Linked DNA regions of Homo sapiens. The protein of the gene in region 1 interacts with the protein of each later gene in a pairwise test. Each region holds a gene or a part of one and is shown on either strand. Other genes may lie near its edges. The genes, in order: AQP11 and STAT5A.

Region 1 (3,818 bases):
CACTTTAGGAGGGCGAGGTGGGTGTATCGCCTGAGCTCAGGAGTTCGCAACCAGCCTGGGCAACATGGTAAAACCCCACCTCTACTAAAATACAAAAAAAAAAAAAAAATAGCTGGGCATGGTGGCGTGCACCTGTAGTCCCAGCTACTCGGAAGGCTCAGGCAGGAGAACTGCTTGTACCCAGGAGGCAGAGGTTGCAGTGAGCCAAGATCACGCCACTGTACTCCAGCCTGGGCAACAGAGCAAGTCTCAGTCTCAAAATAAATAAATAAGTAAATAACAGTAATAATATATCATTCCTGTAGGGTTTTATCTATATGTATAGTAAATGCACATGAAAAGAGTTTGGGCCTGGGTTTGATGGCTCATTCCTGTAATCCCAGCACTTTGGGAGGCTGAGATGGGCGGATTGGTTGAGTCCAGGAGTTCAAGACTAGCCTGGGCAACATAGCAAAACCCCCATCTCTACAAAAAATACAAAAATTGCCTGGGTATGGTGGCATGTACTTGTGGTCCCAGCTACTCGGGAGGCTGAGGTGGGAGGATCTTGTGAGCCGGGGAGGCGGAGGTTTTGATTGCACCACTGCGCTCCAGCCTGGGTGACAGAGTGAAGCCCTGTCTCAAAAAAATAAAAATAAAAACACAGTTTGGGGCTGGGCATGGTGCCTCACGCCTATAATCCCAGCACTTTGGGAGGCCGAGGCTGGTGGATCATTTGAGGTCAGCAGTTCAAGACCAGCCTGGGCAACATGGTGAAACCCCTACTAAAAATACAAAAAGTAGCCAGGTGTGGGGCCTGTCATGGGGTGGGGGGCTGGGGGAGGGATAGTATTAGGAGAAATACCTAATGTAAATCATGAGTTAATGGGTGCAGCAAACCAACATGGCACATGTATACCTATGTAACAAACCTGCACGTTGTGCACATGTACCCTAGATCTTAAAGTATAATTAAAAAAATAATTAATAAAGAAAAATTAGCCGGCTGTGGTGGCAGGTGCCTATAATCCCAGCTACTCCGGGGGCAAAAAGAAAAAAAAAATTAGCCAGGTGTGGCCAGGCATGGTGGCTCACGCCTGTAATCCCAGCACTTTGGGAGGCTGAGGCGGGCACATCACCTGAGGCTGGGAGTTCAAGACCAGCCTGACCAACATGGAGAAACCCTGTCTCTACTAAAAATACAAAATTAACCAGGCGTGGTGCTGCATGCCTGTAATCCCAGCTACTCGGGAGGCTGAGGCAGGAGAATCGCTTGAACCTGGGAGGCAGAGGTTGCAGTGAGCCTAGATCGTGCCATTGCACTCCAGTCTGGGCAACAAGAGTGAAACTCCATCTCAAACAAAAAAAAAATAATTAGCCAGGTGTGGTGGCAGACACCTTTAATCCCAGCTACTCAGGAGGCTGAGGCAGGATAATCATTTGAACCTGCGAGACAGAGGGTGCAGTGAGCCAAGATTGCACCACTGTGCTCCAGCCTGGGCGACAGAGCAAGACTCCATCTCAAGAAAAACCCAAAAAACAACAACAAAAACAACCAGTTTGGAAGGTTGTAACACAAACATCAGAGACAAGGATTACCGTGGAAGGAAGAGTAGACAGGGAAGGAAAGGAAACAGGCATGGAGGCATGGAGGATGGCAGTCAAAAGGCACTTTAGTCTTTGAATTTTTTACATAGAGAACATATCACGTATTGTGTAATTAAAAATGAATTATTTTTTAAAGAATCATCAGGCATGGAACTATCAAAAGATGGCTTCAAAAAACAAGTTACTATTTATTGACATTTGAAGGGGAGATGACAATCATGCATGTTGAAGAAGAGGTATAACCGGGAGATCCAGCTAGTCCACTGCCAAGAGTCAGAGGACAGCATGGATTTGGTGAAATTACCACAGCCAGAGGCTAAGTCTCAAATCTGGCAATTTTAGGCACTAAAGTTTCTCAATATTCCTAAAGGGAATAAAATTCTCTGTGACAGAAGAATACTAGTTAAATATCACATAACACCCATGTAGAAGCTGGAAGGTCTATTTATTCATTTAGAGTGGAAGCTAGCTTTCTAGTAACTGGAATATTTGTCTTCCCTCTCCAGAGAACCCATTTTAATGAGCACGTAAGCAAAGCAAAAGGAGTGTTATCATACCCTGATGAGCTCTGATAAAATATCATTGTCAGGAGTTGAAAATACCTCTCTAGGCCAGACGTGGTGGCTCACGCCTGTAATCCCAGCACTTTGGGAGGCCAAGGTGGGTGGATCACAAGGTCAGGAGTTCAAGACCAGCCTGGCCAAGATGGTGAAACCCCATCTCTACTAAAAGTACAAAAATTACAGCGCGCCTATGATCCCAGCTACTCGGGAGGCTGAGGCAGGAGAATCGCTTGAACCTGGGGGTCGGAGGTTGCAGTGAGCCGAGATCGCGCCACTGCACTCCAGCCTGGGTGACAGAGCGAGACGCCATCTCAAAAGAAAAAAGAAAAAAAGAAAATACCTCTCTAATGACAAGCCTGCTTGTTTTCCCCAAATTCAATCTCTACTCCCGGACATTACTGGGCAAATAATTTCAAAGTTTGCATCTCCAAACTCCACTTTTCATTTCTGGTTTGTATTCTGCTGATATGCTAATGTTACTAACTAAGCTAGCTAGCTAGCTGTTTTCTTTTCTTGAGAGATTCTCACTCTGTCATCCAGGCTGGAGTGCAGTGGTGCAATCTCAGCTCACTGCAACCTCCACCTCCTGGGTTCAAGCGATTCTCATGCCTCAGCTTCCTGAGTAGCTGAGACTACAGGCGCGAGCCACCATGCCCAGCTAATTTTTGTATTTTAAGTAGAGACTGGGTTTCGCCATTTTGGCCAGGCTGGTCTCGAACTCCTGGCCTCAAGCGATCCGCCCACCTTGGCCTCCCAAAGTGCTGGGATTACAGACATGAGCCACTGCGCCTGGCCTGTTTTCAAATTAGTGGTTATTCTTACAAACCTGGAAGAATGACATTAGACTGTTCTCAGATGTTGTGGGGAACACCTAGGGATTTGTACCAAAATCTTTACTTATTTTCAATGGACAAATTTCGTTATAAAAGTTACAACTTACATTTTCCTGAATTTATCCCAAAAGGAGTTGTGAGCAATAAAACTGATCAAATTATATGCAAAAATGATCAAATTATACTGGAAGCCTGTTAGAAATATAGAGGGAAATAATAATAATAAATAATAATTATTTCCCAAGTACTTCGTGTATGGCAGGTACTATGCTACAAACTTGAATTATTATTCCTCATACTAGTCTTATGAAATTTCTTCATTTTAGAGATGAGGAAAGTGAGGCCCAAAATAAGTATTCAGCCTAAGGGCACAGTCTTTTTTTTTTTAAATTGAAACAAGATCTCACTCTTTCACCCAGGCTGGAATGCAGTGATGAAATCATGGCTCAATACAGCCTCAAACTTCAGGGCTCAAGCAGTCTTACTGTCTCAGCCTCTTAAGTAGCTAAGACTACAGGCGTGCACCACCATACCTGGCTAATTTTAAAATTTTTTTGTAGAGACAGGGTCTTGCTATGTTGCCCAGACTGGTCTCAAACTGCTGGCCTCATGCAGTCCTCCTGTCTTGACGTCCCGGTCCTGGGATTACAGACATGAGCCACCATACCTGGCCTTAACCATTACATACATATATATATATATATATATATATATTTACATATATATTTACATATATATTTACACATATATATTTACACATATATTTACACATATATATTTACATATATATATATATTTTTTTTTTTTAATTGAGACATAGTCTCGCTCTGTTGCC
Region 2 (3,818 bases), on another chromosome or scaffold:
CTCTGTCTAAAAAAAAAAAAAAAAAAGTATCCATCATGTGCCAGGCTCGGTGGCTTACGCCTGTAATCCCAGCACTTTGGGAGGCTGAGACAGGCAGATCACTTGAGGTCAAGAGTTCGAGACCAGCCTGGCCAACATGGCAAGACCCTGTCTCTACTAAAAATACAAAAATTAGCTGGGCATGGTGGCGCATGCCTGTAATCCCAGCTACTTAGGAGGCTGAGGCAGGAGAATTGCTTGAACCCGGGGTTAAAGGTTGCAGTGAGCCGAGAGCACCACTGCACTCCAGCCAAGGCAACAGAGCAAGACTCCATCTCAAAAAAAAAAAAGTATCCATTATGAAATACGTAAGACACAGGGGATGTGGAACACAAGGGCGCCTGTGTATCAATAACCCAGGCTAAGAAAGTAAACATGTCCACAGTTACAACCACCACCGCAGGCCCACCCCACCCTCCCAGCGACAGCCCGTCTCCACCACACTGGGACTATTAATCCCTTCCCATCACCTTCTCAACAGCCCAGCGTCCTTGCTTGAGCTGAGTCAGAAGATGCGCGCACCAGCATGTCTTGGTCGAGCTCCTGGCTGGCCCCTGAGGGCCACGTCACTCTGACCCCAGCCCTGACCCATGGGATGCACAAGCTGGGACAGACAAAAGCAACTCTATGTAGCCAGGAACAGCCCAGAGCTAGAACTCAGAAATATGGCTCCAATCTCACTGCAGGTATCGAGCAGGAAGAGGATCATCCAGGCACGGACAGATCCGAGGTGTCTGCACGGCTACCTCGGGTATCCTGCCCAGCCACAGGGAGGGTGGTGGTGATCCCAACACCTGGGCCCAGCCTTCCTATGCAAGGGACCCACTTAGGGCTCTCCTGGAAATTTGCAGAAGCTTTTAGGAAGGAGGCCAGGGAGACGGGAAGCAATTTCCCTACTCCACTGGAGGCAGCTGAGCCTTCCCTGGCAAAAGCAGATCAATAGTCTGTGTTTCTGCTGAGTGAACTTGACAAATGGGACTGAGAAGACACTGCATGATAGATCCAAACCCAACCTGAATCCAAACCTAATCCGCCACCATGCACAGGAAACAGAAAAGCCAGGCACGGGATCAGAAATACTGTCGACAGTCTAAGGACTTGGGTAGGAATAACCGCCCAAAATCTTCCGTTTCCATTCTCAGAAGGAGCTGCCCTTCTTCTAGGGCCAGTCTGGGATAGATTCAGATGAGGGGAAATTCTCTTAGAATTATCCTGTCAGTATTGGCTGGGCACCGTGGCTCACGCCTATAATCCTAGCACTTTGGGAGGCCGAGGCAGGCAGATCACTCGAGGCTAGAGGTTGCAACCAGCCTGGACAACACGGCACAACCCTGTATCTACTAAAACTACAAAAAAAAAAAATTAGCCAGGCATGGTGGTGCATGTCTGTAGTCCCAGCTACTGAGGAGGCTGAGGCATGAGAATAGTTTGAACCTGAGAGGCAGAGGTCGCAGTGAGATGAGATCGTGCCACTGCACTCCAGCCTGGGCAATAATAAATAAACAAACAAACAAACAAACATTTAGAATTATCCTGCAAGTATTTACATAATAGCTGCAATATTCAGGCATTGTGCTGGTCTCAGTGTACACAAAGCACTGACAGTGCAGGGTTAGGAAGAGAGCTTAAATAGCTACAATAGAATTCTAAAAAAATCAGCTGGGCGTGGTGGCCTGCACCTGTAGTCCCAGCTATGCGGGAGACTGAGGCACAAGAATTTCTTGAAGCTGGGAAGCAGAGGCTGCAGTGAGCCGAAATCATGCCACTGTGCTCCAGCCTGGGCGACAGAGCAAGATTGTCTCAAAAAAAAGAAAAGAAAAAGAAAGAAAAGAAAAGAAGAAAGGTCTAAAATCAATGACCTAAGGTCTACCTTAAGAAATCAGATTAAAAAGAGTAAAGGAAAAAGCAGTTTGACACCCCTTGTTCTCACTAAGATGAGGTGTTACATTTCTGGGGTCAGTCTGGAATGGGACATATTAATAGATGGGCCATGTCCCATGACTCCTCAAATTGTACCTGGGGATAGTTCCTTTCAAGCTAATTTGATTTTTTAATTTCCCCACATCTTTATCATGGGAGCCATTGGCGAACTACAGACCTAGGATACAGGAGAATTTTCTACTGTCACCCCTTCCCCCAGGCCCACATCCTATCCGTGAGGCTCAAGAAGGCCCACTTTGGAAGTTCCACCTCTCCCAGCCTGGTTCAACCAGAAGACTTCCAATCCAAGTCCTCCCTCTGGTTAGGGAGCACTGTTCATATTTACCTATTTGTGTCGATATTTACAGAATACATACCATTAAGGAGAGAATACTGGTTAATAAAGTACAGGAGTTTTATGATATATCTCTAGTTGAGATCCAGTTCTGTAATTTACAGGCAACCTAGGCCAAGTTACTTGTTCTCTTTGAACCTCACTTTTACCATCTGCAAAAGGGGGGATAACACAACTGTTCACTTCATAGGCTTGTTGAGAGGGTTGAATTAAATAATGTGTGCCAAGTGTGACCCACGGCAGGGGCTCAATCACCGGGAGCCATTGCTTCTACCAGGCTTTGGGCAAAGTGCTGAGGAGATGGACACTGACCCAGCTCTACCCTCTAGGAGTCCATAGAATGTTCCTCACTCCCACCCTCCGGATGCACACTGCCTCCACCGCGCCTCACCTTGGATCCTCAGGCTCTCCTGGTACTGGATGATGAAGTACTCCTGAGTCTGCTGCAGTTTCTTCAGCTCATTCTCTGTGTCCTGCGTGACCAGTCGCAGCTCCTCAAATGTCTGGTTGATCTGAAGGTGCTTCTGGGACATGGCGTCAACCAGGATCCCAGCCGGAGAGCTGCACTGGAGACAGATGGAATGGAAATAACTCGGGGAAGAGAGGATGGGAGAAGACCACAGGCATTAGGAAACACCAATACTACAGACCCCAAACCCCAAACCCCAAACTAGGGTAAGAAGGGAAACTAGGGCAAGAAGGAAGGATCATTTGCATCAGAAGGAGTCATTTGCCAGAATTGGGATAGAAAAGGGAAAGAGAAAGGAGAAACAGGTGACCTGGCAGATAACGGCAGATAGTAACACCTTCAAAGTCCAAATATCTATGTCAGAGCTGCCCTCCACTAGAGTATTCCAAACAGGGTCCATCTAATTTCCTCCCAGGGACTAGAACTCAACACGTCCCAGGTGTCACCTGGGTTTTCCCACTAATGATGATGACCCCTCGCTCTACATTTATTTGCTGACTCAATACCATGGACTGCAGTAGATCCTAGGGACATAGGGAGGAACAGGGCTGTGTGAACACACACCATCTCACTTAAGACCCCCTTGTGACTGAAGGAAGAGGGAAGAGGCCGAAACTCTCACAGGCATCCTGGAGACCCCGAAATGAAGTTAGAGGGGAGGCATCAACAAGCTCCCCTTGGATCCAGCCATTCCTTCAGCACATTCAGGAGAATCGCTTGAACCCAGGAGGGGGATGTTGCAGTGAGCCGAGATTGCGCCACTGCACTCTAGCCTTGGCAACACAGCGAGACTCCGTTTCAAAAAAAAAAAAAATAGAGAGAGAGGGGTAGAAACCAGGTCACAAAGGGAGGGAGCACATGGATGAAGAGGAACAAGTCCTCAGAGGCTTTCCAATGAACTGTTCTCAGAATAAAATCCAAACCCCTTCCCATGGTGTCTGCTGGCCATAGCCCTGCCTACCTCCAACCCCAGCTCGCTGGGAATGTGTGCTTTCTGTTTCTGTTCCTTGAACACACAGGCATGTTCCTGCCCTG

What was found.
Region 2: the proteins of AQP11 (region 1) and STAT5A interact in a two-hybrid assay, tested with the Homo sapiens proteins (one large-scale study listed by BioGRID and IntAct).

Annotation. Positions count from the first base shown.
Region 1 is NC_000011.10:77,596,417-77,600,234, reverse strand, and holds part of AQP11 (aquaporin-11), read right to left. Parts: intron 1-3,818. UniProt on the Homo sapiens protein: Channel protein that facilitates the transport of water, glycerol and hydrogen peroxide across membrane of cell or organelles guaranteeing intracellular homeostasis in several organes like liver, kidney and brain.
Region 2 is NC_000017.11:42,294,681-42,298,498, reverse strand, and holds part of STAT5A (signal transducer and activator of transcription 5A), read right to left. Parts: intron 2,881-3,818; coding exon 2,706-2,880; intron 1-2,705. UniProt on the Homo sapiens protein: Carries out a dual function: signal transduction and activation of transcription. Mediates cellular responses to the cytokine KITLG/SCF and other growth factors. Mediates cellular responses to ERBB4.